Homo sapiens: one gene and its partners. The protein of the gene in region 1 purifies or fractionates together with the protein of each later gene. This does not show direct contact. Each region holds a gene or a part of one and is shown in the gene's direction. Other genes may lie near its edges. The genes, in order: MVK, NAB1, TRUB1 and NRCAM.

Region 1 (5,068 bases):
TGACCAACACCAAAGTCCCTCGCAATACCAGGGCCCTTGTGGCTGGCGTCAGAAACAGGCTGCTCAAGGTGACTCTTGTTCCCTTCTTGGGCAGGTTTCAGGAAGGCCAGGACACAATTACATCTGGATTTTCGAGGTCTCCCTCTGGCTGATGGGTTATAGGGGGTGTGGTGGGTGGTGGGGGCCCTTAGGGAGGTGGTTTTGGCAGAAAAGAAGGTACCGTCCGTGCCCGTAGCCTGGCCAGGAAAATGACAGTGGTCGGGCTCGTTAGACACACTGACTTTGCAGCTGGGAAGGCAAAAAAACAGGCTCAGAAGAGAGGTGGTTTCCCCAGAGGATGGGCACGGGCTGTGTGAACACCTCCTCCCTCCACCCCACTGCTGGGGCAGCTGTCCTGCATCTGCCTGCCCCCAGGCCTCACCAGCCGTTCCTTCTTTTTTTCTCCAGTTCCCAGAGATCGTGGCCCCCCTCCTGACCTCAATAGATGCCATCTCCCTGGAGTGTGAGCGCGTGCTGGGAGAGATGGGGGAAGCCCCAGCCCCGGAGCAGTACCTCGTGCTGGAAGTAAGAGCCTGTCTGCAGGAACCGGGGTTACTGAGTCCACACCACTGTCCAAGGCAGTGGCTCTGCAATCTGGCTGTGCTCAGAATCCCCCGGAAGCTAGCACATAGAGGTCAGGACCTGCCTCTGGCCTATGCTCTCAGCTGGGCCCAGGTCTGTGCGTGCCATATAAGCGTATCTTATTTTCAGGCCTCTTCCTGGGTGATTCCGAGTAATTGGGAGAGTGCAAGGGAGGCCAGGGCCTGGCTCGTGCTAAGTGCAATGGAAACAGGTTTGGGTCACTTCTAAGGAGCTCTGGCCCACGTAGGTAGATGGGGATGTGGCTGATGCAGAGTGCTCTGTCGGTGCAGGGGTGACTTCTTGGTCACTCTCCTGCTATTGCTAACTTCATGGGTGCATTCAACAACTACTTGTCAACTGCCTGCTTTGGGTCAGACAGATCCTAACATTGTTTTTTCATCATTGCAACCCCATCCACTGCCATTTGCATAATTCTAGTGTAGAGGTTGTGACCTGGTACTTTGGGTGTGATCAGGCCTGTGTGTGAATCCCAGCTCCACTTCTGCTGGACGTGTGGCCTCGCTAGAGTGTCTTAAGAATGCTCAGATTAGACGGGCGCAGTGGCTCACCTGTAGTATTAGCACTTTGGGAGGCCAAGGCAGGTGGATTGCTTGAGTCCAGGAGTTCGAGACCAGGCTGGGCAATGTGGTGAAACTCTGTCTCTACAAAAAATACAAAAGTTAGCCAGACATGACGGTACATATCGGTAGTCCCAGCTACTCGAGAGGCTGAGGCAGGAGGATCACTTGAGCCCAGGAGGTCAAGTTTGTAGCCTGGGCGACAGAATGAGACCTTGTCTCACACACACACAAAAAATGCTTGGAGTCTCATGGGTGACACGCAAGCACAATGTCTGGTGTGCTATGAGCTTAGGGAACCAAAGAGCCCAGGCTCCCCCTGGACACAGTCCACCTGGCCTGGTGAATATGGGCTGTTAGCCATCTGGCTGCCCTTGCAGAATGAGAGGATCGGGTGGCCCCTAGCTGCCGTGGCTGTGCAGCAGCCGTCAGTGAAGGGACAGGAGAGGGGCGTGCGGTCTCCATGTCACCACAGTCCCTCCCCGCGCCCCGCACTCTGTAGTCATTGCCTGGTGTCTCCCGGTCCCCCGTGGGCATTCGAGTCTGTAGCCCCTGTGCTGAGTGGAAGCTGCCACTAAAGCAAGCCTTTTACAAATGATTCTTTTCACTTGATCCTCACACCCACCTCCCTGTGAAGTAGGTGTCTTATCCCTATTTTACAGATGTAAAAACTGAGGCCTGAAGAGAGACTTCCCCCAAGGTTATCCAGCTAGTGAGTGGCCGAGCCAGGGGTCCAGCCGACGGACTGGTCTGTCCCTTTATTCAACAGATCTGTCATGAGCACCTACTATGTGCCAGGGCAGCGCCTCCATCGAATTCCTGTGTTTCGGCCCTCATTCCCTCAGTCTTTGTCTTCCTAGCTCTCAATTCCTTCCACATAGAAAGGAGGGAACACAGTCCCCCCGAGTAGGAAATCAATAATGATAGAATACTGCCTAAAATACACCCTGTCGAGTCCCTGGAGAATGCCACAGAACAGCACGTTGATTATACATTGTGTGTATTTTTGGCTGTGGCAGCCGCTGAAATGTGCAGCTCAGCTCCTGGACAGCTTTGCACTCAAACCAGCGAACTGTTCTCCTGTGTCACAACCTGTCATCTGATCCTTGACAGATTTTGGATCAGAATGTGACAGGTGTCTGGAACCTGCCTCGGCAACGTGACACCTGGTGCTCAGGCGCAGAGAGCGGCCCCCAGAAGTCTTCTCTCACATCCAGCCCATCAGGCTGGTGAGAGGCACCCGGGGCTGCCACCAGGCCATCATGCCTGTCTGCTCATTTGTCAAAAATGGTGAGCTTGGCGCAGAGCGAGGTATGAGGCAGGCTGTTGGGGAGGGCCACTCCAACCCTGCCTGACCGGCCATCCCCATGCGGGAGAGCTAGGTGGGCCTCCGCAGAGATGCCTCAGTGATTGGCAACTCCTGGTATACAGGCAATCCAGGTGCCCCGGAACAGAGCTTCACACGGAAGTGAGGAATGCCAGGGGGTGCTCTCAGAGGCAGGGTAGACAGGAGCTTCATGTCAGGCAGACCCGCCTTCCAGTGCCAGCTTGGTACCTACTAGCTCAGTGATCGTGGGCAAGTCACTTCTTCTCTGAGCCTCTGTTTCCCCTTTTGTAAAGTGGGGATGATGCTAACGTACCCATAAAAATACTAACAGCACATATCTCGTGCCAGGCATTGAACAGAAAACTCACCTTGTTTCGTCTCAGGGCAAAGAAGCAGATTTTTTTTTTTTTTTTTTTTTTGAGACAGAGTCATCTTGCTCTGTCGCCCAGGCTGGAGTGCAGTGGCACAATCTTGGCTCATTGCATCCTCCCAGGTTCAAATGATCCTCGTGCCGCAGCCTCCTGAGTAGCTGGGATTACAGGCACACGCCAACATACGTGGCTGATTTTTGTATATTTAGTAGAGATGGGGTTTCGCCATGTTGGCCAGGCTGGTCTCAAACTCCTGACCTCAAGTGATCCACCCGCCTCGACCTCCCAAAGTGCTGGGATTAAAGACGTGAGCCACCACACCCTGCTGAGGCAGATACTCTTATGACCCCGGTTTACAAGCAGGAGACAGACCCAGTGCAGAAGACCTTGCTCAAGGACACACGACCAAAAAGGGGCAGAGCAGAGACTCGAACACAGGCCTACTTGACTCCAAATCCCATGGTTTTTACTTCCTGATGGCTGGGACCGTGGCTGGGCACCCATCCTTAGAGCCCCAGCACGTTGTGGGTGTTTGGTAAATGAAATCTAACTACTGGGTGCCTGGGCAGTGGAAGCTGTGAAGTTTTATTTTTTCATCCACATGCATCTTGTTGGATCCTTAAAGAGCAGGAAGTTTATCCTGCATAACTGAAGAAACCTAGACAAACAGCTGTTTCCCTGCTTATGGCCTTGCTGGAGTTACACCTAGTTCTTATTCTGAAACCAGTCCCCAAGGCAGCTGTAGGGAGGCATGTTATTTGAAACTTTTTCTCTTGCAAATGGCAGAAATCCATTTCAACCAGACTTTTGTAGAAAGGGAATGTATTGGCTCTCAACTGAGAAGACCAGAGGTAAATGGCTTCAGGTATAGCTCAATCCAGGGGCTGAAACAATGTGTCGGGAATCTGTCCATCTGCCACGTAATATCTGATCATGTGGCAAGATAGGTCATCTTGGCGACTTGTGTCTGAAGTTAATTATTTTAGCAGCTCTAGTGGGAAGGGGCAGAGGAAACCCTGGGAGGGCTGTGATTGGCCCAGCTTGGACCACATGCCCATCCCTGATCAGTCACCAGTGCCAGAGGCTTCTGTGACCAGCCCTAGGATATGTGCTCACTGCTGTGGTGAAGGTATGCTCAGCTCTACCCAAGCTCCGTGAGAAATGCTGCAGGGCAGAAGGATTCTTTTACAAGTGGAGAGGGCCAGGGTGCCAGGTAGGCAAAGCCGTTGGCTGTCTCCAGCCAACAACTGTCAGATGGACGAGGCAGGCTCAGGGGTGGGCATAGGACCTTGGCCTCAGGCAGGCCAAGTGGGAACAGATGGAACCTTCTCCCCTAGGAGCTCATTGACATGAACCAGCACCATCTGAATGCCCTCGGCGTGGGCCACGCCTCTCTGGACCAGCTCTGCCAGGTGACCAGGGCCCGCGGACTTCACAGCAAGCTGACTGGCGCAGGCGGTGGTGGCTGTGGCATCACACTCCTCAAGCCAGGTATCCCGGGGGTAGGTGGGCCAGGCTGCCAGCCTGGGCTCCTAAGAGGGGTCCACCTGGAGAATTCCCTTGAAAGGAAAAAGAGACCTGGAAACAGGTCTCAGCTCCGCTGTGTGGCCTTGGGCAAGTTAGTTAACCTCTGGTCTTTGCTTCCTCATTGGTAAAATAAGGATGAGAGTATCTAGCTTGCAAGATCGTTGCCCAGATTCAAGCAGGAAAGTGCACCTAGAGAGCCTGGTGCAGGGCTGGGCTGTGGCTGGGGCTCCTGTCATCGGGGCTGTCCGCACAAGCTTGGGAAGTAACCAGGGCATTGTCACTCTCCACGTCTGCCTAACCTTGCCCCACTTGTACCCTTGATGTGGTCAGGATGCGGTTGATTTTGCTACAAAACGAAAGGGTTTCCTTCCCGTTGGTTTGGGGAAAGAGGAAGACCGAGTAATGGGCTTGGCTTAGGAAGCTCCCTGGTGCCTGGGGGCCTGGCAAGGGGCTTCTGCTAGTGTTTAACCACCTGACACCTACCTCTGCCCTCAGGCTCGCTCCTGGCCTACAGTAGGCACTAACCGGTCCCACCTGCCTCCATTTCCCTCTGTGCTCCTTGTCCCCTCCTTCCTTCCTTCTTTCTCTTTCTGTCTTTATCTCCTCCTCTCTGTTCTTCATCCTTCCTTTCCCCTCTGCTTTGC
Region 2 (8,196 bases), on another chromosome or scaffold:
GAATGAAGTGAAAGAGCTGCTAAAAACCAACAAGAAGTTGGCCAAAATGATTGGTCACATCTTTGAGATGAACGATGATGATCCACACAAAGAGGAGGAAATTCGGAAATACAGTGCAATATATGGCAGATTTGACTCAAAGAGGAAGGATGGGAAACATCTCACACTTCATGAGGTACAAAGCCCGCGTTGTTCCTTCTGTGTGTGTATGTGGCATGTTGCTAGTCGTTAGAGATAAATTTGGTAATAGTTTGCCACAAATGTGATACACTACCTGAAAGCAGTATTAAAAACATTGAGGTGTTAGCAACATGTAGCACTTTTGTGAAAATAGACCATATTTATTGTGTTCAGGGTATATTTGTATTGAACTTGAACATGTTTGAGCTTTGGAACTACAGTACGAGGTGACTTTTAGAAAAATGTCAGAATTTAAGCAGTGAAAGCGTAAAGTCTTTGCATTTGTAAGGCTGTTTGTTTTTTAATTAAAAAATAAAACTAGGTTTTAAATATAACTTTTAAAAAACATTTTTGTAGGCTTTTTTTAAAGAAAAAATTTCATAAAAATAGCAAGAACTTAAAGCAATTCTCAGCTAGCATAGAAAACAGTTAGATGAATGTTGGAAGAATTCTCACTTTGAACATTGTTTTGGTTTGATGTTTGGCATTAAACATTTTTATTTTATCTTTATAGTACTCTAGACATAGTCTGCTTAAGTTCATGTGTGTGTATATGTGTGTATAGATATAACATTTTGTCCATATAACATTATACTTCACGTGTGTGTATAAACTTTGGCATTTACTCCTTTTCTTGTCTATCTGGTCAACACATATCTTTAAAACTCAGCCAAGAATAAGCTTGTGTTTTCTGTAATCTTTTCCTTCAAGTAGAATGACCGTTCCTTTCCATTTTTATCCCTACATATACTTTTGTCACAATAACTTTAACTTCTTATTGTACTTATTTGTATACTGGTCTGTGCTTCACAGTATACTCTGGGTTTCTTCAAGGCAGAGATAATGTCTCCTTCATCTTTATATCCCCAGAGTCAAATGTACACAATAAGTGCTTGGAAAATAAATGCGTTTTCAAAAGTTAAAAAGACTATGTCATAGCTAATTTTTTTTTTTTTTTTGAGATGGGGGTCTCACTCTGTCACGCAAGCTAGAGTGCAGTGGGTGCAGCCTGGACCTCCAGGGTTCAAGCAGTCCTCCCTGCTCAGCCTCTTGAGTAGCTTGGACAACAGGTGTGTGCCACCACACCAAGTTAATTTTTTAAGTTTTTCATAGAGATGGGAGTTTCTCCATTGTTGCCCAGGCTGGTCTCAAGCTCCTGGGCTCAACTGATAGAACTGTCTTGTCCTCCCAAAGTGCTGGAATTACAGGTATGAGCCACTGTACCTAGCCTGATCTTTTTAAATAAATGATTTTAGACATGAATGTTGGAGCTTGAGATCAGATAATTGGTTAGCAGAATTACTTAAGTCATAGCCAGCCTGTGACTTGATCTATTTTGGGAGTATCCTTTGAACCAGTAGAGGAATCCACTAAAAGGGCTATATGGCTGTCATTAGTAGAAAAACAAAAGGCAAAATGTGTTGGCAATTTTAGTTTCATGCTTTAACCTAGTTTTCTTATAATTTTTAAAACATAGCAGATGAAATACAAAGTTGAGTCGAAATACATGTGTTTTTTATCAAAGTAAAAGTATTTCTAAAAGATTAACAAACCTAGTTAACCTGACTTAAAAAAAAATCATACCCTACTTTTAAAAAATGTAAAAAGAATTATTTTACACTTAGCTTTTGCTAAGGGGCTCTTTGCCTCTTTAGATAAGTAGGTACATATGATATTTAAGTGATGAGACCATGAATTTCACAAAATAAGGAAATACTCAAAATGAATGCCAGTAGGCTGAAATGTGGGGGTGGGGGCTTTGGAAGTTGTGGCTTGTGTTTTTGAAACTTAACTTAGGCCTTCTTGTTACTTGTACTCCAGTATGTGAATCTGGTCCAATAATATAGTTTAGGATAAATGTTTGTGAATCAGGAAGCTTTCTTAAAACTAGTAACTATCCAAGATCTTGGAAGAAATTACAGAATCCTGGGGGAATTGAAAGAAGGTACTATTAGGTATATCTTTTAGGTATTATGAGAATTTTGTATTTTTTCTCCTGATTATTTAAAATTAGCAGAAGTTTTTTTAGTTCTAAGTTCCTGAGATTAAAGAATGTTGCTAGTTTGTACTCAATTTCCACATAAGGAATACATGACTTACTCTTAATTCATTGTTGGCTTAATCTCACTGTTCTGAGGATTTTCTTCATATAAATTGTGTGGATACTGTTCTCTTAATCTTTCAAGACATAGAGCTGTATGTAGGTCACTGGTGGATGAAATTCAGGAAGCTATCTATACCTGTAAGTTTTTTTCAACTGTTCAAGTACATAAGATTATTTTTCTTGTAAGAAGAAGAAAATATTTGTTTATATATTTATAATAACATAATTTGTTTCCAAATGTACACCGTAAAGAATTATGGAATGACTTATTGTTAAGCCCCTCTTTTTTTTTTTTTTAAGCTAAAGAATCAGCAATAGTCCTACAGCCTGGCTAAGTACAGTCTGTTTTATAGGTGTCAGATTGTGAAGAGAGTGAGGGCTGAAGCTTAGAACCACACACCTTGCTGGTGTTCGGCAGGTGCCAAGGGACAAACCCAGAGGCGATATCAGAAAAAAGCCAGCAGGCAATGTTGCATCTATCATAAGGGGTGTTAATAGATAGTAGGTGGTAAACTAGGCAAGCAGTGTACCCCTAATGTTAAATCAGTGAATGGATGAGGAGAGAGCAACTAAAACTTGGGAACAGCAAGGCAATAGAGAATGTAGAAACTTGTAATACTCAGAAATGTAAGCAGGTAGATAATTTGGCATTACAGAATATTTGTCAGCAGATAGCAGCTTCCAGTCAAAGAGCTCTAGAAAGATAGGAAGGAGAAGAGGAGAATGTAGTCAGCGGGTAACTGTAAGCTGAGCAGAAGAAACTCTGCAGGAATTGGGGTGCTGAGCAGGTTACCAAGATAAGGACCCAGGCCTATAGAATAAACAGTGATGCCAAGCTTAGGTCAGTTTCCATTATAGTGCTGAGAAGTCAAGGCTGAGTGTTTCAGAGGAGGCCAGCAATTTCACCTTTGAGAGAGGAGGAATGCTGAATCTGAGAACCGCATAAACGTGGTCACATTATTAAGTTAGCTTGTTTTATTCTGAACTCTCAATCTCAGAATTCATAGATTTCAGCATCTAACACTTGAAATGCTGGACTTTTCCTTCTGATGATTTTTAAAAATGAATTATGGTAGTCTATTTCTTGAGTCAATTTTGGTAAGTTACATTTTTCTAAGAATATCCATTTCATCTGAGTTTTCAAACTTAGTGGCGTAAAGTTATTTATAGTTTTTTAAGACCTAATATTGACCTAATATTGATTGTACACTTATCTCTCCTTAGCTCCTGACCAACCTTGCCAAAGGTTTGCCAATTTTATTCTTTTTTAGAGATCTGCAAACTAGGGTCTGTGTGCCCAGTCTCACTCACCTCCTGTTTTTATAAATAAATTTTTATTGGCACACAGCTGGGCCTATTTATTTATGTACTGTTTGTGGCTGATTTTGAGCTACAATGGTGAGTTAAGTAGTTGTGACACAGGCTGTTTGGCCCGTAAAGCCTAAAATATTTACTCTCTGGCCTTTTACAGAAAAAGCTTGCCAACCTCTGATCTTTTTGAAGAAGCCACTCTGGGCTTAGTTGCTATTCTTGCTTGTGCTGTACACGTGTATATATTTGTCTCCTCTCTTAGTTATTTTATTGTTCTTATCTAACTTAATTTGGGTGCTTAGTTCATTAATTTTTAGTCATTCTTTTTCTAATATGAGCAATTAAAGTATAAATTTTCACTATGTATTGATTCAGTGTTATTCCCAAAGTTTTGTTATGAGGTTATTTTATTATTTTTCAATTTTAATTATTTTTATGATTTCTGACCATGTGTTATTTAAAAGTGTTTCTTTATTTCCAAATATGAGTAATTTTTTTTCCTTATTTTTCCTAATGATTTCTGACTTAATTACATTGAGGGCAAGAGAACATGGTTTGTGTGATGCCAACCCTTTAAAATTTGTTGAGAGTTTAGTTATGATTCATTTTGTGGTCTGTGTTTTTTACGTTTGGAAACGATATCTTAAGCAGTTGTTAGTAGAGTGTTCTATATGTGTCTGTTCTAACAAGCTTATTAATTCTGTCATTCAAATCTTATATTCTTAACTATTATTTTGTCTGCTTGCTCTGTCAGTAAAAAGAGTTGTGTACTAAAATTTTACTGATTGTAGTGTTGTCTGTTTCTCTTTGTATTACGCAGTAATCTTATTAACCTTTAATAATGTATTTTGCTTTAGAAAGCTATTTTCTTTAATGTTGATATAAATACATGAGCTCTCTTTTTGTTAGTCATTGCCTATTACATCTTTATATCTTTTTTTTTTTTGGAGACAGGGTTCACTTTGTCACCCTAGCTGGAATGCAGTGGTGAGATCACAGCTTACTGTATCCTCGACCTCCCAGGCTTAGGTGATTCTCCCACTCAGCCTCCTGGGTAGCTGGGACCACAGGCATGTGCCACCACACCTAGCTAATTTCTTTCTTTTCTTTTTTCCTTCCTTCCTTCCTTCCTTCCTTCCTTCCTTTCTTCCTCTCTTTCTTTCTTCTTTCCTTTTTTTTTTTTTTTTTTTTTTTTTTTTGTAGGGACAGGGTTTCCACGTTGCCCAGGCTGGTCTCAAACTCCTGGGCTCAAGCGATCTATCTGCTTCAGCCTCCCCAAGTGTTGGGATTACAGACGTGAGCCACCACACCTGGTCTATTCCTTATTATATCTTTATATCATCCTTTTATTTTCAGCCTTTCTGAATCCATGTTTTATATATATCTTTTATAAATACTGATCAGTTGGATTTTAAAGAACCCAGTCAGACATGCTTTGTTTTTTAACTGGAATATTTGGTCCATGTACATTTATTATATGACTAATATTTTGGATTTTTTTCCATTATTTTATTTGTATCTCCCCTCTAGCCCTGATATACTTTCTGTACAGATTTATCATCTGGGATTAGCTTCCTTCTATCGAAAGCTCTTTTAGGATTTTCTTAATGAAGGCCTACTGGTGGCAAACTCTGTCCTTCCCTACCTACTGGAAAATATCTTTATTTTGCCCTCATTTTTAATTACTATTTATTTGGGGTATTAAATTCTATAATGTTAGTGGTTTTCCCTTAGTAATTAAAGATACCTTTGTGTAAATTAGCGGGGCGTGGTGGCGGGCACCTGTAGTCCTAGCTACTCGGGAGGCTGAGGCAGGAGAATGGCGTGAACCTGGGAGGCGGAGCTTGCAGTGAGCCAAGATCATGCCACTGCACTCCAGCCTGGGCGACAGAGCAAGACTCCATCTCAAAAAAAAAAAAAAAGTTAGTGGTTATTCTGCTATTTATTGTGTACTTTTAAAATCTTGTTTCTGTCCAATTCTCCTCTCCTGATTCTCAAGTTTCGTGGTTATTTTTACTGTACTGCTTTTTAGTCGTATTTTCAAATCCCTTTGTTTCTTCAAATGAAGTCTTTGAGGGTCTGATTTTGCTGTCTGTTGTTTCTACTAGTGTTCACTTTTGTTGCCTTGTTTCTTTTGATGTTTTATGATTTATGTGAATTCATATTTCTTGGAACTTTAACTGTGAGAACATTTGGAGTCCCGGGAAGAAAGTGAATTCCCTAGAGGTTATTTGCTTTTTCTTTTTACTGGGCATCTGGGGACATTACAAATCTAAGACCCTATGAAAATAAATTCTCAGCCCACTTAGTGTGAATTATGGTTGATTGGGGGTTATGAAATCTTAAGAGAGTATCTTCTGTTCTCTCCCAGTCATTACTAGGGTTCAAGACAGATAATTTTCTTTGCATTCTCCTGGGGGTACAGACGTATTTCTAATTCAGCCTTACATTGGGTGTGTGTGGTGAGGTTTCAGCTTTATGGAGGAGGCATCTTAGACTCTTCAATTCTGATGGGCTGTGGGCTTTGCCTCTTTTTTCCTTCCCATTCTCCTCAACCCCATGAGGCCATGAAGATTGAAACTCAAGCTCATCAAGTTTAGCGACTGTCCCTAACTTAAACTTCTTTGAGGTACTGTACTCATTAATTTTGGCCTCAATGTCCTTATTCTCATCAGCTCATTGAGCATTTAAAAGATGATCCCCTCCCTATTTTATTTAACATTTTTAGTTTTTTTTTTCTGAGAGGGGCCAGTAATGGTACCTAGCCCTCCCAGTGCTGGAAATGAAAGTCCTGATTGCCTTTTGAGCCTCCCTATCACACAGTTGTTCACAGTGTTTTTGTGCCAACAGTACTTAAAGTCACAATCATTTAATTGTTGGAGATTATAATTTTAACAACCTGTAAAGAAAGTTTTTTTAGGAATCAGTAAACCACTCTTCTTAAGGATAAAGATAACTGTAGTAAGTCCAGTTTTTAAGTCCGGTTATAAAAGATAGCTAACTTTAAGAGGCCGGGCATGGTGGCTCACGCCTGTAATCCCAGCACTTTGGGAGGCCAAGGTGGGTGGATTGCTTGAGGTCAGGAGTTCGAGACCAGCCTGGCCAACATGATGAAACCCCGTCTGTACTAAAAATACAAAAAAATTGGCTGGGCATGGTGGCACATGCCTGTAGTCCCAGTAACTTGGGAGGCTGAGACAGGAGAATCGCTTGAACCCGGGGCGCTGAGGTTGCGCCACTGCATTCCAGCCTGGGAGACAGAGTGAGACTCCATCTCAAAAAAAAAAGAAAAAGGAAGCGAACTTTAAGAAATCTTTCACATAAAGATATGGTGGAATTTTGGTATTTTGGGCCACAAAAAGAGGAAATGGAGGAAATAAGTAAACCAGTAAGGGAGAATATCTTGTTACTTTATCCTTTTAACAAAATTAGAGTATTGGCATTCAGAAAAAGCTAACAGTGCTGCTGCAAGTGACGGGAATATTTTCATATTTTCCCAACTGCTTGGGAATATTTTCATTTTTCTTTTGTAATTATATCATGATAGTTATTGATGTGTTCATTATTAGCAGCTAGGGAGCATGAAATCTAGGTAACTCTGACAGAACACGTGTTTTTAAGGGAGAGGCTTCATGAATCAGCTTTTTATTACAACTTGGGGGTGAGCTAGAGTTACTTCTCCAGCCTCAGTTTTTTACCAGGTTCCCTGAGGGCCTGGAGTTTAGTCTACTTTTTTGGTTTGTGGGAGCCTGAATTCAGTGACAATGAATGCATTATGTTTATTTTTCTTGGTTTCTGGAAAGGTAAGAGAAGGAATACTAGAATATTGTTTTCAGTTTATGTTGAAAAGTTATTTTCTGTGTTTGTGCATAAGCTAGTACCTCTGAAATGTTGTCAGTTAAAACATCTTACTGAAAATCAGAGGTTTCCTTAGTAATTTAGATTTATTAATATGAAAAATAAATCGCTACATAAAAAGCTATTTGAGAATCCTCTTCAAGGTCATTTAGCTACTGCCATGCTGAAACTGATTTATTTTGAATATCATTATTTAAAGTATACATTTCACTTTTAACTCCAATAACATTGTGCCTTTCAAAGGCACTTAGGGGAGGAATTTATCTATTGATGACTCTTTAGGAGGAGTGGAGAAGGCTGAAAATAAATTCTTCCTTCAATTATGCTTTCATATTCAGCTATGGGTTTAAAATAGGAGACCTGGGTTTATTATTATAACTTGCTGTCAGTGGCCAAATTAATTGTCTCAGAACAAATTAATATAAATTACAGTTATAAATTTGGGGAGGAGGATGTTAAATATCTATATCATACCATGTACCATAACACATTCTAGATGGTTTAAATACTTAGGTGGGAAAAGTAAAACGATTAGACTAAATTATGGAACATTTATATATTATTAGAGTAGGAAGAGATTTTCTTTGCCTGTCACCCAAGGCATAGAAACTGTATGGCTAATGACAAACTTAAAAAAAAATCCCATTACATATGATGAAGAGTTAATGCTGTTAATAAAGAATTCCTGAAGTTCTAAGAACATGAAACATTGTAATGAGTCAAAGATGTAAGAAAAACCTTTA
Region 3 (8,196 bases), on another chromosome or scaffold:
TAAATCATTAAGAGTTTAATGTTGAAGATTATTTTTTAATAAAAAGTAGTTAAAAACTGTTAATAAATATTTTTTCTTTTTTTAAAAGCACTAGAAGGAATCTTAGAGATCATCTTATCTAGTGACTTTCAAAATTTTTTTGACTAAGACCCATAGTAAGAAACATATTTTATGTAATGACCATATAGATACATACATTTATGAAAAGGAAAAATTTTATCAAACAACTTTGTGTTAGTCTGTTTGTGTTGCTGTAAAGGAGTAGTCGAGGCTGGGTAATTTATAAAGAAAAGAGGTTCATTTGGCTCATGGTTCTGAAGTCTGTACAAGAAACAAGGTACTGGTATCTGCTTCTGGTGAGGGCCTCTGGAAGCTTACACTTGTGGCCATGTCGCATGGTGAGAGAGGGAGTGACAGAGAGAGAGGCGGAGGTGCCAGGCTCTTTTAAACAGCCAGATCTCGCGTGAACTCATTGCAGGGAGGGCACCAAGCAATTAATGCAGGATCCGCCCTCATAACCCAGACAATTCCCACCATGCCCCACCTCCAACACTGGGGATTATATTTCAACATGAGATTTGGAGGGGGCAGACATCCAAACTTTATCCAACTCTAACCCTATGTATGATGTATTCTTGATACTTTTCCTTCTATTTCATTAAAAAAAAAAATGTGGCTGCAGCCCCCTAACTTGGCCCAGATCTAATGTCCACTTTTTCTTCACTTCCTATTTTGACAGATGAATTTTTATTTGCATCACAGTGCAACTAGAAAAATTAGACTTCTGGTATGTGTAGGATGGAGTTACGTCAAGAGTAGAAATATTTAGTTCTAGGATGGCAAATATTCAGTGTTCTTGTTACAGCCATATTACAGAACAGCCTTCTCTCCCTAGCCAGTCGTAATTGGAGATATTGCTAATTGAACATGGCCTAACATTTCTTCTTGCTGAATCAAGAAACACCCTTAGAATCTTCTTCAACATGGTGCCACTTCATACAACTACTGTCACTTACTAGATGAAATTCTGGCTTTTAAGTAAAATCTTTAGGCCATCACATTATTTTGCTTCCATCTGTGAAGACTAGACACTAATCAGACCACCCAAATCATTTCTTGCATTTCCTCCCATTCAGATCAGGGTAAAAGTTAAGAAAAGAGCCACTGCTCTGTGTTCCTCATTGTCTTCCTCTCCTGCCTTGGAGTGAGCTTTGTTCTGCCAGTGATCATATTTCTCAAGTCTTTTTTTTTTTCCCTGTGCCTGATCATTTAGGATTATGTGTATAATGTGTGTGAAAAGCATGTGAACTTTTTGTACAGTGCCTTGTGTATGGAAATTGCTCATTAAATACTGTTATTACTATTCCCAAGTATTTTACTTATCCCCAAGTCTCTCTCTTGAGGTCCAGGCCTGTTGGAGCTTTCTAGCCACATGTTCTGTAGACACCTGAAATTAATTTTACTCAGGCAAGTTCTGTTGGAACTCTTGAATACAGTTAATTTCTTTTTTTTTTTTCATGGCTATCTGTGATTGCTGGTGATGTAGGCAAAATATTGCACTCATCAGAAAGAGAAAGCATGCCAGTTCTTTAAGGGAGAGACAGACTTTCCTTGGACATTAAAGCCAGAAAGAAGTTTCTGACAATAAGAGATATTAAATGACAGATAGATGGTGATTTTCAAAAATAGTTTTACAACAGATGTAGAAATGGAGCTACATAAAATACAGTTTAGGTAAAATTCTGAGAGGTTAGGCTGATGTGTTCCTTTGGCCTAAGTTGATCTAAGTATAAAACGTTGCTTACCTAGAGGAGGGCAAATAGCCCCTCTTATATCTTCCCTAAATTACACTTTCTTTGAGCCAGTCATTCAGCAAAAGCTGGATAGCAGATGTCGTACTTTGAAGGAACAGACAGAAGGAACAGAAGAAAACAGATGAGGTTTTGGAGTGCTGTCTTTATTAGTTTTCTATATTGTTGATCAAAGTTGGTTACTTTATAAATGCTTTAGAAACCAGATGGAAAGGTTATGAAAACCTGAATAATCTAACTAGCATGTCCAGATATAAAGGTACCTCCATATCTCTGTGCAGGTAAACCATAGTGGCACCTGCAGGCAAAGCCAGCATCTCCTCAGAAGGCAACTTTGTATCCCCCTCCAGTAGTTAAACAAGTGTCATCATTGGAGTGAATGAAGTTTCCCCTTCTTGGTGTGGTCAAAGGATAGTAACTTTCCCCAAGAACACAGTAACATTTTTAGGTTAACCAGTTATGAGAACTCTAAAGTGTGGCTTGAGTAATGCTCCTATGAAACTTAGCCAACTCTTGAAGATTTCAGCATTTCTAATCAGTTTTCTCCAGAGGCTAGTCCAGTTTGTACCTTTTCTATATACGCTATTAATTTTCATATATTTCATAAATACTGTATTGAAAATTTTAAAGGGCTTATACTTATGAACTATAAAAAAGGACTGTTCCTTCTTAATGAAGACATTCAAAGCCACATGTTTTTGGTTTGATAGGTTTTTTAAAAAGTGTTCTTTCTCATCCTCAGTAATATCCCTATTTTGTTTGTGAAGGTTTAAATCACAAGCTTTCAAAATCACACCTCAGTTGAGATCCAAGGAAATGATTGTGTGTATACTTTCTGTAGTAGAAACATTTTTCTTTCTCCTAAACAGAACAGAAGCTGATTTGCTGCTAGAGATGTCTAGCTAATACCTGCTGTGGGGTTTAGGGAGCTTGACGATGAGTAAAGTAGAGAGTAGAATAATACCAGTGAGAAACTGTGAGTCCCAGAGAGTACACAGGTCAATGGAATGTTCTTCAGGACCTCTCTTTTGTTGCAGTAGAATTACATTGTAATGAATACAGTAGTAGAATTCACGGTTCCCAGGTATACGTCTTGGAGAATTAACAACTCCAAAGCACAGACTCTACGTAGAATTTAAGCCAGTGAAAAGAAATATTTTAGACTCCATAAGATAAAATGTTAGGGTTGAATGTGTGTATCTCCATGTCTTTTTTCTTCTATCCCAATATCTTTTTGGTCGTGAGGCTTTGTTTCAGCTGAAGGCTTAACTGTGTGGGTGAATTTTTCTAAATGGTTTGTGGATAATTGAATAAAATTGAAGGATAATTATAACTAGATGCCAGGACAAGGGAAAGCTAGGAGACAGCTGATTTCAATCATCGGTTCGCAGGGTGTGGTCTAAGGACTCCTGAGACTCTTTCAGGGTGTCTGTTGAAATTGAAACTATTTTCATAGTTTTGCCTTTTTAACTTGCAATCCCACAAATACATGGTAGAGTTTTTCAGAGATTACTAGATGTGCAATGACATCATTGCTCTGATGGCTAATGGAAGTTTTAAACATTTTTCAGCTTTAATTTCTAATACAATAAATCTAGGCAGATATAACATGTTTTTAAAAAATGTGTGCCAGGGTTTCTCAATAAGTTTTAAGTGTGTATAGGAGTTCTGAAAGCAAAATGTTTGAGAACATTTTGATTTGATTTGATTTGAGAATGTTGATTTAGATATTGTCTCCCCTAAAAAGAATCCAGCACGTAGCTACATACAATATAATTGCAGACCCTGGAGTGGGTTGAGACTTAGCAGATGAAATCTAGATATTCAAAACTATGGTGAAATGTGAAGAATTGCACACATAGGCACTTCTCTAGCATGTGTATCATTCTGTCAGCAACTTTTTATTAAGCTGCTACTGTGTTTCTATTTAGGAAAGAACACAATAGATGAGCAATGGGAAACTCTAGCTGAGAGTTCATACTTGCAGAAAGTAAGGATCAATAAAGTATACTTGGAAAACAGTGAATATCTCTGTAGGTCATCATGTGCTAAGATGTGTGATATGTGTGATATGAGAGCTCAGTGAGATAAACCAGACATGTCTGTTGTTGCCATTATATCCAGTCCTCTCTGCAGTAGTTGTGTTTATTGAAGTTTTCCTGTTACACTGTAACCTCTTAGAGGGAGAGCAATCTATCTTATGTATCTGTGTATCCTTCCCTAGCACTTAGGAGAATACTTTGGACATTCATAGTCCTTAAGAAACATGATCGAATTTGTGGATTTGATATATGCCTTCCTTCTTTCTATGTATGGAATTTGTATCGAGCACCTACTCTTAGTCATGCTGTGGAGGTGGGTAAATGGAAGTTGGGATGGATTAAGGGGTGGCTTTGAAAGCTGAATAAGGTTTGATCCTTAGAGAAGAGTGGGAGTTCAAGGCCAGGGAAGTGGCATATGTGCCCCAGGTGCACAAAACACCAAGAGTCCAGAGACTAGAATGGGCATTGCATACTTGGGAAACATGTTAAGGTTCCTAGTTCAAACTCGTTGCAGAGCAGAATACTGCAGATACATTCAAGGCATAGTCTGCAAGATTGCACCATGGTTTTCTTATGCAACTAAACAGACTCTAAAGACAAAAAAATCATAAAGCATTTTGATGCTTTGCTTTCCTTATGGGAGCTGACTGTAACCAGATGAGTCAACTCTAGCCACTGTTAACTGCGAATCATTCTGTATTTTCTTTCTTAGAAAATAAAGATGATGATGGTATTATTATCTGTTATTTACCAGGGCTAGATATTGTTACTCTAAACTCTTTGCTTCTTCTCATGAGGCATTATTGTTTTCCACATTTTAAGATAAGGAAATTAAGCTCCAGCCGGAAAGACTAACTTGGTCTACAAATTGTGGTACAGTCAGAATTCAAATCCAGCCAGTTGACCCTGAGCCTGTGCTGTTACCATTGTTGTACTTCTCTCATACTTCCCCCTGTGGTATGCTTAGTCGAGGTTGATTGTCCCAAAATATAGAAGCAGGAATGGGTGTCTCAGGTGATGAGACTGTGTTTAGTTACAAAAAACTAATTTTTGTCAATACCTATGAAACTTTAAAAAAATTAATTGAAATGCGTTGGAATATTCCCTTCTGTATTATATTTATTTTTAAAAAATCTGAGCTAGATAATATTAAGGTGATTTCATCGAAGGGCCTTAAGCTGTTATAAAATGTCTGCATACTTACAAGGTTTTGAAGTTTTAATATTTTTCTCATTTTTGTCTTGGGTCCCTTCACTAGCCTCATAAATTTGTCATGAATAAGCTTATATTTCTGCAAAGTACTTTGAGTTTTCTTTTATAAAATTGCTCACATAAATACAGATTATTTTCAGTGGGAAATAAAGTTCTTGCACTTTTTTCACTACTTCATGTGATGCCCCAAATAAAATTTGCGTTTGACCAAAGTGAAAAGAGTACGTACTACAAGTGTGTCCTAAGATGAGAAATAAGACAATCCTCACGTAACTAAGAATGATCTAATTCTTCACTTGTGAATAAAGATCAGTTCTTAGAAACGATTCTTGTTCCTGAGATCTTAAGTAGTAATTTATCTTTATTAAGAAAACACATGGCCGGGCGTGGTGGCTCACGCCTGTAATCCTAGCACTTTGGCTTTGGGAGGCCGAGGTGGGTGGATCACCTGAGGTCAGAAGTTCGAGACCAGCCTGACAACATGGTGAAACCCCATCTCTACTAAAAATACAAAAAATTAGCCGGGCGTGGTGGCGGGTGCCTGTAATCCCAGCTACTCCACAGGGTGAGGCAGGAGAATCGCTTGAACCCGGGGGACGGAGGTTGCAGTGAGCCGAGATCGCACCACTGCACTGCAGCCTGGGCAGCGAGCAAAACTCCATCTCAAACAAACAAACAAACAAAAAACACATTTAATAGTTAAGTCACTAATTCTGTGACTATACTGGTTTTGCTCTTTTTCTACAGATTTAGCTTTTGTTTAATACATGACCTAGTTACTAAGAATTGTCTTAGTATTTCATGTAAGAAGTACTAAGTTGGCTTATTTAAAATTAATTTTAATTGTATATGTGGGAAGATTATTGAATCTTATGATGACCATGGAGTCAAGGCTATTGTACCATTCTCTCTACTCATGGATAGACTTGAACATTTTCCTTAAACAAACTTCTCAGTATAAAGGTGGTTTGAGAAATTTGCTTACAATAATAATGGTCATAATTATTAAGCCATAATTATCAATAAAATCAGGTTTATCTTTCTCATATTGGCTAGTGTGAGACGTTTGTTAATGTTCTTCAGTTTACACAATTGCTTTCCACATATTAAAAACAAAACAATTGCAGTCTGTTGTTTTAGCCTGTATTTTGTATCAGGTTGGTAGTAGTAGTGAAATTCTGTGTAAACTTCAAGACATGCATAACAGTTTTTGTTTGCCTCACGGCCCATTTTCTCTCTTGTTTCCCTTCCTCTAGAGATATACTGCCATTGGAGAACTGGGGAAAGCTACTGATACACTAGATTCTACGGGGAGGGTAACAGAAGAAAAACCTTACGGTATGAAGCTCATCTAATGTAGGCCTCTTTTCTAACATTTAGGAAAAGTTTCTGTGCAGGTAGCATTTTAAAACAAATCTCTGATATTATCAGCCATTTTAATTCTCAGTGTGTTTCTTTGGGCTAAGAAGATTGGAAATTGTTTATCGCATTGTTGCTTACTTGATAGGAGTTTTTGAATAAAGATTTATTGTGATTGCCTCTTTTTCTATAGTGATGTTTTAAGTGTTCAGAATTATTCTTCCAAATAACCTCCTTGCAAAAGCATGTATGGCTAGGATTTAGGTTATTTTCCCTAGTAAACGAGAAACAAAGCAGAGATACTCTGTTAGATTTCATCTGTCTTGCCATTAAAAAAAAATATATTACCTGTCAGCTGTTGAAATAAATGTACCAGGTTTAGTACTTTAAAACTTGTCATGTTTTTGTGCTTTCGGACTATGTAAAAAGAGGACAGAGGGCAAGCTATTTCTCTGGAAGTAAACCAGAACTCACTGGGGCCCACCTTAAGTTTCCTACTATCCCTTCTTTCACTACCGTAAGGAAGAATAGATAAATTAAATGGTCTCCTAGCAACTCTCACAGTGCTTATGCTGTTTATAATGCAGCAATTGCAGTTTTCTAAGTCAGTTCACCTGCATCATTATGTCACCAATTTGTGGACTGTTTTTTTGTTTAGTGTTATCTCTTAGTCATAGGCAAGCCAGCATTTGGCCCCCTTATATTTTTGTGTTGATTATCCTTATTACGTACTGCATATTGCCCCAGTAGTGAGGCCAACCTTTTTATTGTTCATAATAGCTTCATTTTTTCTGTTAACATTTATATGTAGCTTAGTATCTTGCTCAATTAATCAAGCAACATAATGAAAAGAAAAATTACTGATTGATTTCAAGGCTTTTCAAAAACAGATGTTGAAATATTCTTGGAATTATTATTATTAATAAATAATAGCAGACCCTCACTTAACTGAAAGCCAGCTATAACCTTCAACCAGAAGACTTTAAGATTAAGGAGGCATAGGGCAATAGGAGGACGTCAGAGACTTCCAGAGGATACTAAAGTATTTATAAGTACTTATGTAATTAAGTCTCCTGTATCTCTGACTCCATTTACCAAACCATAATAAGGAGAATGATTATTATTCAGAACAGTAGTCCTGGGGTAATATAATTAAGGCTGGGGGGTGTGGGTACCACGTGGTGAAAAATATAAGGCGCACTAGAGTAGACAAATCTGGGTTTAATTTCTAGCTCTGCCCTTATCTAGCTGCGCAAATTTGAAATTTTCTTAGTCTCTTTATGTTGTAGTTTTTCCATCTCCAAAATGACAATAATGATAGCAACCTCATAGTGTGATTATGAGGATTGATTGGAGGAGAATGAATTTGGAGGTCTCATAGACAAGTCATGAGGCTCTTATAGTAGTCCAAGCAGAGATGATGGTAAGTTGGACCAGGGTGCCAGTGGTAGAGACAGAGTTTTCCTATTAGAAAAATTTCCCATGATTAGGAAGTAAAATTAGCAAGACTTGATTTTTAGTTGATTGGACAGGATAGCGAGGAAGTTGTCAACCATGACCTAGGTTTTGGGGTTTTAAAATTGGTTACATGATAGTGTAATTCATTGAGGATGCTGGAAGGGGCCCAGGGTGACAAAAATACTTAAACATATCCTTTCTTCCTATTCTTAAGCATTTTAGTATTTTAAAAAGCTCTATGCTGTATTAGGTAATTTGTAACCTTATTTACTTACCTTAAAGAAAGCTCAGTTTGTTAAATCATCTCATTGTAA
Region 4 (8,196 bases), on another chromosome or scaffold:
TTTCTGCAGTAAATAATAAAGTATTTAAAATATATACTTTGATAGAAATTGAACTGAATGAGTGGTTTTCCAATGTTTCTTGGCAGCAAAAGCCTTAGTAAAGCCCTTTAGTAAGGCTAATGCTGGAACTATTCTTCGCCTCCTTCCCCTGGGAACTTAAGGAAGCTCCTTCCTCTCCCTCTAGAGCAGTGGTCCCCAACCTTTTTGGCACCAGGGACTGGTTTCATGGAAGACAGTTTTTCCACGGACAGGGTGGGGGCACAATGGCTTCAGGATGATTCAAGCACATTACATTTACTGTGCACTTTATTTCTATTATTATTATGTTGTAATATGTATATACATATATATATTATTACATGTAATATATACAGTGACAGATCATCAGGCATTAGATTGTCATAGGAGAGCACAGTCTAGATCTAGATCTCTCACTTGCACAGTTCACAATAGGGTTCACCTTCCTGTGAGAATCTAATGCTGCCACTAATCTGACAGGAGGCGGAGCTCAGCTTCACTCGCCCCATTCCCCTGGGGCCTAAGGAAACTCCTACCACACCCTCTAGAGCAGCGGTCCCCTCTGCAGCCCAGTTCCTAACAGGACAGTACCCAGTTCTTGGCCCAGGGTTTGGGGACCCGTGCTCTAGAGGCCTGGTTGAAAAATACTGTGCCAGAGGACATATCCCTTCTAACCCAATATTCTAATTGATTCTCATTGTTTTTCAACTTTAATCATTCTTAAAGTGATATGTATTTTGCTCTAACTTTTGAAAGTGTTTACCATCTTTCTCCTTTATCAAATTTACAGTTTTTTTCCTGCCAGTGAAGCAATTATAGGGTACGGCTGCATGTCCATTTCAGCTGCTCTGAATGCATTCTATCCACAGGTTCACTGTTGACAAGGATCATCTAGTGGTAGCTGATGTCAGTGACGATGACAGCGGGACCTACACGTGTGTGGCCAACACCACTCTGGACAGCGTCTCCGCCAGCGCTGTGCTTAGCGTTGTTGGTAAGAACGAAAACAAAAATAGCACAACTGGCTTCCCTGCATTTGGTTGAAAAGAAAAAATAAGATAAAAATTATAAATATCAAATATTTGCTTGTTAATATGCATGGGTGAGTTCATACCCATGTTTTTCTTCTTTGAAAGATGCCTTGGAGGCAATAATTTCAGTATAAATAGACTGTGTAGCAGCACTGGGTGAAATGGTGGATATGCACATTAGTAACCTTTTTTGTAATAAAATAAGGAGAAATGATCTACTTGTATCTAAAATTGAAGGTTTTTTTTCCTAAATTGTTACTGCATGTTTATCAATGCTGTGTCTCACAGCTAAGCATAGGGCTTAATTTTATAACCTTGAATAATGTACAGTCTTTGTCATCTTGTGCTATCTTGTATCTTTCCATTACTAATTTTGATTAAAATCCTTTATATTAATGTCCTTTCTAGCTCCTACTCCAACTCCAGCTCCCGTTTACGGTAAACTAATATGAGTCTTCTTTCTCTGTTTTCTGTCAAACAATTTCACATTTGCAGAAAGTATTCATAACTTTCTTTTCTATGTCACATAATTGTGTTTCTTAAGGAAAAGGTCTCTGTCAGTTGTTATGTTGTGTCACCCATTTACTGACAATGAATCATTTCTTCATCATAACCACAGATTTTTCACCAAGTTCGTTGCCAGTTCTTTCTAAATAGTTCATGTGCTATTATAAAATCACTTCGTTTGATAAAAGTCCCTCTTTGATGCAATTTCCTTTTAAAGTAGCATAGTGCTTTTTCAAAAGCCATCATCCACATTTTACAGAATGAAAAAGCTATTTCTAATATCATTCTACAAATTAGGCTTTCATCTCAATTTATTAAAAGTTGTTTGGGAAAAATCTTGTTTTGGGATTCCATTTTCAAGAAATGTATATGGGGAAAAATAGATGTTTAGAACAACATTTAACTTTTATATCAGAGAAAACCGACTCACCATGTGTTAACAAAAGACAAATCACTCAAGAAAGACCAAAAGGAGGGGCACATTTATGTTGTGTGGCTTTTTAGAATCTGGAAAATAAGTCAGAAATCATTTCCAGAAATCTTTTTATTTAGAGAACCTTCATCTTTATTCAGTACGTCAATACAAAAATCAATTTTTGGCATCTCAGCTGATTTTGCACAATATTATTAATATTGTGTCTAATTATCCAATATAAAACCTGTGCTTTGTAGACATTTACTGCTTTATGACTGATAAGAAAAAAAAGCACATATATTTGTATGGTCTCTGGTCCCCTAAGAGCCAGAGATACTCCTAGGAGCAAGGTCAAATAAAGGCCTGGGGGGAACAGTAACTCTCTGGATCTCAGAAGCACCATTAGAAGAGGCAGACATGCTTCTAGGACACCTTCATCTCGACATGTGTCTGTCTATACACTGTTGTCCTCTGGGAGTAAACACACTTATGCATGCTGAGGGCTACCTCCATAGCATCTATTTCAGCATTCTTTCGCAAATATAAATATTCTTTCAGAGCCCCAAAATCTGTTATTCAGCATTTTTTTTAGAAAGAACATTTGAATTTTCTTTAAACAGCACCTTTTATTTGCCTGTATTTCTTTTTTCAGCAGTTGCTTTCTCTATTTCCCATGTATTAGAAATTAAGCTTATTATTTTTCATGTTTGTGCCCATTCATGTTTATGAGAAGAAACGCTGAGAGTGCTGATGAACCACATGTGTCTGCTTCACTGGGTTTGGTTACAAATGCTTTCGTTTCCTTTGAAAAACAAGTGAGCAGAACTCATTGATGGGTTATCTTGTGTGTGTTCGTGTGTTCCCAGCAGCCTCAGCTGTGCACATTTCCTTTCAGTTGCATGCTCATTGACTATCAAGTGTGCTGTGTCTTTAAGATGTCCCCTCTGTGAATAGTATCACGAGTAAAGGAGAGCCTCTTAAAGATGGATGCGTGACCATGATGTGTGTATGTTTGGTCTACAGATGTCCCAAATCCTCCCTTTGACTTAGAACTGACAGATCAACTTGACAAAAGTGTTCAGCTGTCATGGACCCCAGGCGATGACAACAATAGCCCCATTACAAGTATGTGGTATTATTTGCTCTATTTCCGATCAACTAAATGGCCATGTTTGAAGCACTTTGTAACAGTCAGCTGAATTTCCTCACAAAGGTATTTACTGGGATTCTCTGCTTCATTACTGATAGAATAAAAATATTTATTTATGTCCTTCCTCTCTTCAGAGCTGAAACTATTCCTGGTTACACCTTCTAGAATAGGACACCCCTTAATTGCTGAAGATGTTGACTAATCAAATACACTGTCATTTGTGTTTAAGATCCATAAAAATCACTTTAAATATCTACCATGTAGGAAGATACACCTTAAGTTAGTTGTTTATTTTGCCCATTTCTTCTGGGAGAAAATGTTAGGAGGAGCAAGTGCTGAATAGCTCTGTCTTCCTATTAGGAAACTGATACTTGATGAGTAAAGTAACTTTTCAACCCCCTGTTGGTAACAGAACTGGGCGTAGATAACAGGTTCTACCTTAACTTCCAACCTAGGTCTCTTTCTTTCCATTAGTCCCTGCTACAAAGTTGCCCATTCAACAATGTGAGCTTCTCACGTTGGTGACACAAGCCTAGGGCCTAGGAAATAAGATAAGGAAGGACAATGTCATAAGGATACTAGAAGAGCATAATAAAATTAGACTATAGGTAAGCTTCGAAGTTGAATTGTAAAACCAAAGAGATACTTAAGAGGCAGACACAATCAGGTCACATGCCTGAAATACATTATTACCTTCAGGCATATACCGCAGGAAGACAATTCCTTTCTGATGACTACCTAAGATGATTCTGAAATGATAGGTGTGTTGATTTATTGCACCTCCTGGTAAAGTAGAATATTTCCACTAAAATTTAACAAAAGCCCCTCCTCTATCTTGTGTTGTTTAATGGTGCTCTTTTCCCTACTTGAGTGTTCAATGTCCTTGATCAGAACACAAATTCATCCAGGCCCAGTCTTCTAGCTCATTGGGTACATTAGCCAGAGTTAGCTGGTTAGATGGCTTGGAGACTCTTTTTTCCTATATTAAAATAATACCATTAGATTTCAAGGCATTTCTACTCTTTCATTCATTTACTCATTCATTCAACAGATATTTTTGAGTGCCTACTGTGTGCCAGACATTGTTCTAAAACAAAATAGTCAAAAATCTCTGTGGTAATGGAGCTTATATTTTAGATGAGGATATAAATAAGATAAAATTAATAATACATTATTAAGCATAATTTCATTATATCTGCATGTAAACATATGTATATATACACACACACACACACACACAGAGGACTCAGATCTACCTTCAAGGGCGAACCTGCTGTAAGGAGTGTTAACCCACAGCCTCCATCTGCTTCTCCTTCTCTAAGGCTCCACTGCAGAGTTCACGTGAGGCCATGCTCCTTGGGGTGCTCCAGTGACTGGGCACAGCAAAGGTCCCAGAAGTCACACGTGCCTAATGCAGAACTCCTCCTGTGTAGACTGTACTCTGGGCTCCTGGTTGACCTGGCTGAGACTATCCCAGAGCTATACTATACTGTAGTCTGAGGCTTCTTCTACTCACTCCTCCTTCCCTCCCCCACTTCCTGTTACAGATGTCAGACCAGCATTGTGGTCTGAAGGTCTTCCCTCCTTCAGGCTTCCTTGCTTCCTCTCCCTTTTTTCTTCCATGGACATTTTCCCAAATAGACCTCTTGCACTTCTTTTTTTTTTGAGACGGAGTCTCGCTTTGTTGCCCAGGCTGGAGTGCAGTGGCGCGATCTCGGCTCACTGCAAGCTCTGCCTCCCGGGTTCACGCCATTCTCCTGCCTCAGCTTCCCGAGTAGCTGGGACTACAGGCGCCCGCCACCACACCCGGCTACTTTTTTTTTTGTATTTTTAGTAGAGATGGGGTTTTGCCGTACTAGCCAGAATGGTCTCAATCTCCCGACCTCGTGATCCACCCGCCTCGGCCTCCCAAAGTGCTGGGATTACAGGCGTGAGCCACTGCGCCCGGCCACCTCTTGCACTTCTAATTCTGTCTTAGCCTTTGCTCCCTAGAGGACTCAAACTCATATATATCTATTAATACATATGACTGTGTTTATATGTGTTTAGGGCATGCAAAAAACAAATCAGCAGAAAGACATGTGGAGCTAGGGGTATAATTGTGAATAGTGTGAATAGGAAAGGCCACACTAAAAGAACATTTGAATGTGTCAATCAAGACAGGGGAGGGAGGTCAGTGAGCACACTATGCAGTTGTCTAGGGGAAGAACTTTCCAGCAAGAGCAAAGGAAAAGAGCAAAGGCCCTAAGACAGGGCATGTCTGCTAGGATGCCAGTGTGGCTGCAGTGAAATGAAAAAGGGAAAGTGAGGGCGGAGAGAAGGTCAAAGAGCTGAAGAGTTCGGTGGTGGGTGTGTAGAGTGGGAATTGTGCAAGGTCCTGTAGGCCACTGTGAAGATGGGAAAGCCCTTGGAGGGTTTTAACAGAGGAGTGATGAATGAATAACTCTGGCTTGTCTATTGAAAATAGTGTATAGAAGAACAAGAGGGGAAGCAGACAGACTGGGTAAGACCATGGTTCCCAAACTGTGCACTGAAGTGCCCTGTGGTACTTCAGTGAATTCACAGGGTACCTTCCTTGGAATAATTTTAAAGTTTTAACTTTTAAATTCTGATATTAAAAAAACACAGTGACATCTGTCAAACGTCACATGAAATTAGCTTGAGGCAGATTACAGGTTCAACTTTATATCCCATGTCATTTTGTGATAATGTTATATCTCTGCAAAGCGTTTGCTGTGATAAAAAGCAAGTGCCACATGGAAATCAGTGGGGAATAGGAAATGTGGAAGGTGGTGTCCAATCTGTTTACAAGGTTTGAGAACTTATATAAGAGAAGCTTTACAATGTTAAGATATAAATAGATTTAAAATTGTTTAAAATTAAATTGCTTACATTTATTTAAGATATAAATACATATAAAGATGTATGAACCTAGCTACTTAATACCTGAAAACATTAGGTAATTCTTTTGGCCTAAGGGAGCCATGAAAAATAAATTATGGAGACACTAAGTACACCATGAACCGAGAAAGTTTGGGAACTACTGAGTTAGGAGGTTATGTGATAACTCACACAAGAGATGAGGGTGGCCTGGAATAGGCTGAGAAATGGTCAGATTTTGGATATATTTTAATGGTACAGGCCATTGTACTACAGAGAGTGTGGAAGAAGTAGGGAAATAAGAAGGATTCCAGATTTTGACCTGGGCTGTCACTATCAATTGGAGAGGAAGATTAGAATTAGTTTTGGTACTATCCAGTTTGAGATGCTGTCATGGACAACCAAGTGGAATTGTCGAGCAGACAGTTGGACTTCCTGAGTCTGCAGTTCAGGGAAGAGGTCTGGGCTACAGATGTAAACATGAAAGTCATCCATTTATAGGACTGGAGATCATCCAAAGATGAATGTGGATTGAAAGGAGAACTCCAAGGACTTAGTTTTGAACCACTGCAAGACATATAATATTTTTAGTTCATCTTTGTGTTTATAGTGCATATCATGGTACCTGGCACATAGTAGGCAATCAGTGAATATCCAAATACCTATTATTTTACAAGGGTAAAGTGTGTACACACCACAGAATTTTAGTGGACGCAGAGGGTATGCACTGAAAAATATGTCTTCCTCCCGCCCCTGTCTCCCAGCTCCTCTGGCCACACCAATGTTATAGGTTTATATTCTCTGAGAGGTAATATGCATTTATATGCAAGTGAATATGTCTGTTTATTTGTTGTAGTAATTTCGTTTTACATTTACACAAGCATAGTATCCAGCACACACGATTCTATACCCTGCTTGGCTGCTTGGTTTCACTTAATAATACACTTTAGAAATCATTCCATTTCAGTACGTATGGAACAGCCCTATTCTTTTTTTTTTTTTTTCCTCTCTCTCTCTCTTTTTTGAGACAGGGTTTCACTCTGTCCAGGCTGGAGTGCAGTGGCTTGATCATGGTTCACTGCAGCCTTGACTTTCTGGGCTCAGGTGATCCTCCTAGCTCAGCCTCCCCCATAGCTGGAACTATAGGTGCACGCCACCACACCCAGTTAACTTTCTGTAGAGACGGGGTTTTGCTAGGTTGCCCAGGTTGTCTCAGACTCCTGGACTCCATCCACCTGGGTCTCCCAAAGTGCTGAGATTACAGGTGTGAGCCACCGCACTTGGCTGACAGTCATTTTTAACAGCTTCAGAGTATTCCATTGTGTGGACCTAGTGTAATTTGTTTAGTCAGTGTCCTGTTGATGGATGTTTAGGTTGTTTGCAATTAGGTTGTTTCAATTGCAAATAATACTACAATGTAAATTATTTCTCATGTGTGTTTGAGCCATTTGTGTGAGCCCATTTATTCAAAATAAATTGCCAGAAGTGAAATTTAGTATGCGCCTTAAATATTGACAGATTTTCTAAACTGTCTTATATAGAAGTTGTCCCAACTTACACTTCCTACAAAGTCAGAGAATGCTTGATTCCTTGTGTCATAGTCAACGAAGTGTGTTAAACCTTTGATTATTGCCAATATGTTTAGTGGAAAATGGCACTCACTATATTTAATTTATCCTATTATGAAAAAAATTTGATCATCTTTTCATATATTTAAACTTTTTAGGGATATATGGATTAATTCTAAACAGTTTTAAGTAACTAAATTCAGCATGCTAGAGAAAGAATACCAGATTTGGTAAAATCTAAAACTGTTTAGAATTAATCCATATATCCCTAAAAAGTTTAAATATATGAAAAGGTGGTCAAATTTTTTTTGTAATAGGAGAAATTAAATTAAATACAGTGAGATGCCATTTTTCCACTAAAATGTTATCATGTGTGTTTATATGTTGAGGATAATGACAACTCTGAAATCAAAATATTTTAATGGCATTTTTCTTGAAAGTAAAATAATTCATGTTTGGTTGCTTGTGTTGGGTTGCCCTGTTAGTTATTGCTGGCAGCTACCCCTGAGTTGACTGAATTCACGGTCTTGGGTTTGGTGTGTGTGTGTCGTGACCAGAATTCATCATCGAATATGAAGATGCAATGCACAAGCCAGGGCTGTGGCACCACCAAACTGAAGTTTCTGG

What was found.
Region 2: the proteins of MVK (region 1) and NAB1 purify together in Homo sapiens (affinity purification with mass spectrometry; one large-scale study listed by BioGRID and IntAct). This does not show direct contact.
Region 3: the proteins of MVK (region 1) and TRUB1 fractionate together in Homo sapiens (co-fractionation; one large-scale study listed by BioGRID). This does not show direct contact.
Region 4: the proteins of MVK (region 1) and NRCAM fractionate together in Homo sapiens (co-fractionation; one large-scale study listed by BioGRID). This does not show direct contact.

The regions. Positions count from the first base shown.
Region 1 is NC_000012.12:109,590,794-109,595,861, forward strand, and holds part of MVK (mevalonate kinase), read left to right. Parts: coding exon 1-68; intron 69-447; coding exon 448-564; intron 565-4,234; coding exon 4,235-4,388; coding exon of another isoform or gene 4,389-4,399; intron 4,400-5,068. UniProt on the Homo sapiens protein: Catalyzes the phosphorylation of mevalonate to mevalonate 5-phosphate, a key step in isoprenoid and cholesterol biosynthesis.
Region 2 is NC_000002.12:190,659,821-190,668,016, forward strand, and holds part of NAB1 (NGFI-A-binding protein 1), read left to right. Parts: coding exon 1-175; intron 176-8,196. UniProt on the Homo sapiens protein: Acts as a transcriptional repressor for zinc finger transcription factors EGR1 and EGR2.
Region 3 is NC_000010.11:114,953,405-114,961,600, forward strand, and holds part of TRUB1 (pseudouridylate synthase TRUB1), read left to right. Parts: intron 1-6,321; coding exon 6,322-6,403; intron 6,404-8,196. UniProt on the Homo sapiens protein: Pseudouridine synthase that catalyzes pseudouridylation of mRNAs and tRNAs. Mediates pseudouridylation of mRNAs with the consensus sequence 5'-GUUCNANNC-3', harboring a stem-loop structure. Constitutes the major pseudouridine synthase acting on mRNAs.
Region 4 is NC_000007.14:108,184,545-108,192,740, reverse strand, and holds part of NRCAM (neuronal cell adhesion molecule isoform A precursor), read left to right. Parts: intron 1-887; coding exon 888-1,012; intron 1,013-1,457; coding exon 1,458-1,487; intron 1,488-2,994; coding exon 2,995-3,096; intron 3,097-8,054; exon of another isoform or gene 8,055-8,126; coding exon 8,127-8,196. UniProt on the Homo sapiens protein: Cell adhesion protein that is required for normal responses to cell-cell contacts in brain and in the peripheral nervous system. Plays a role in neurite outgrowth in response to contactin binding.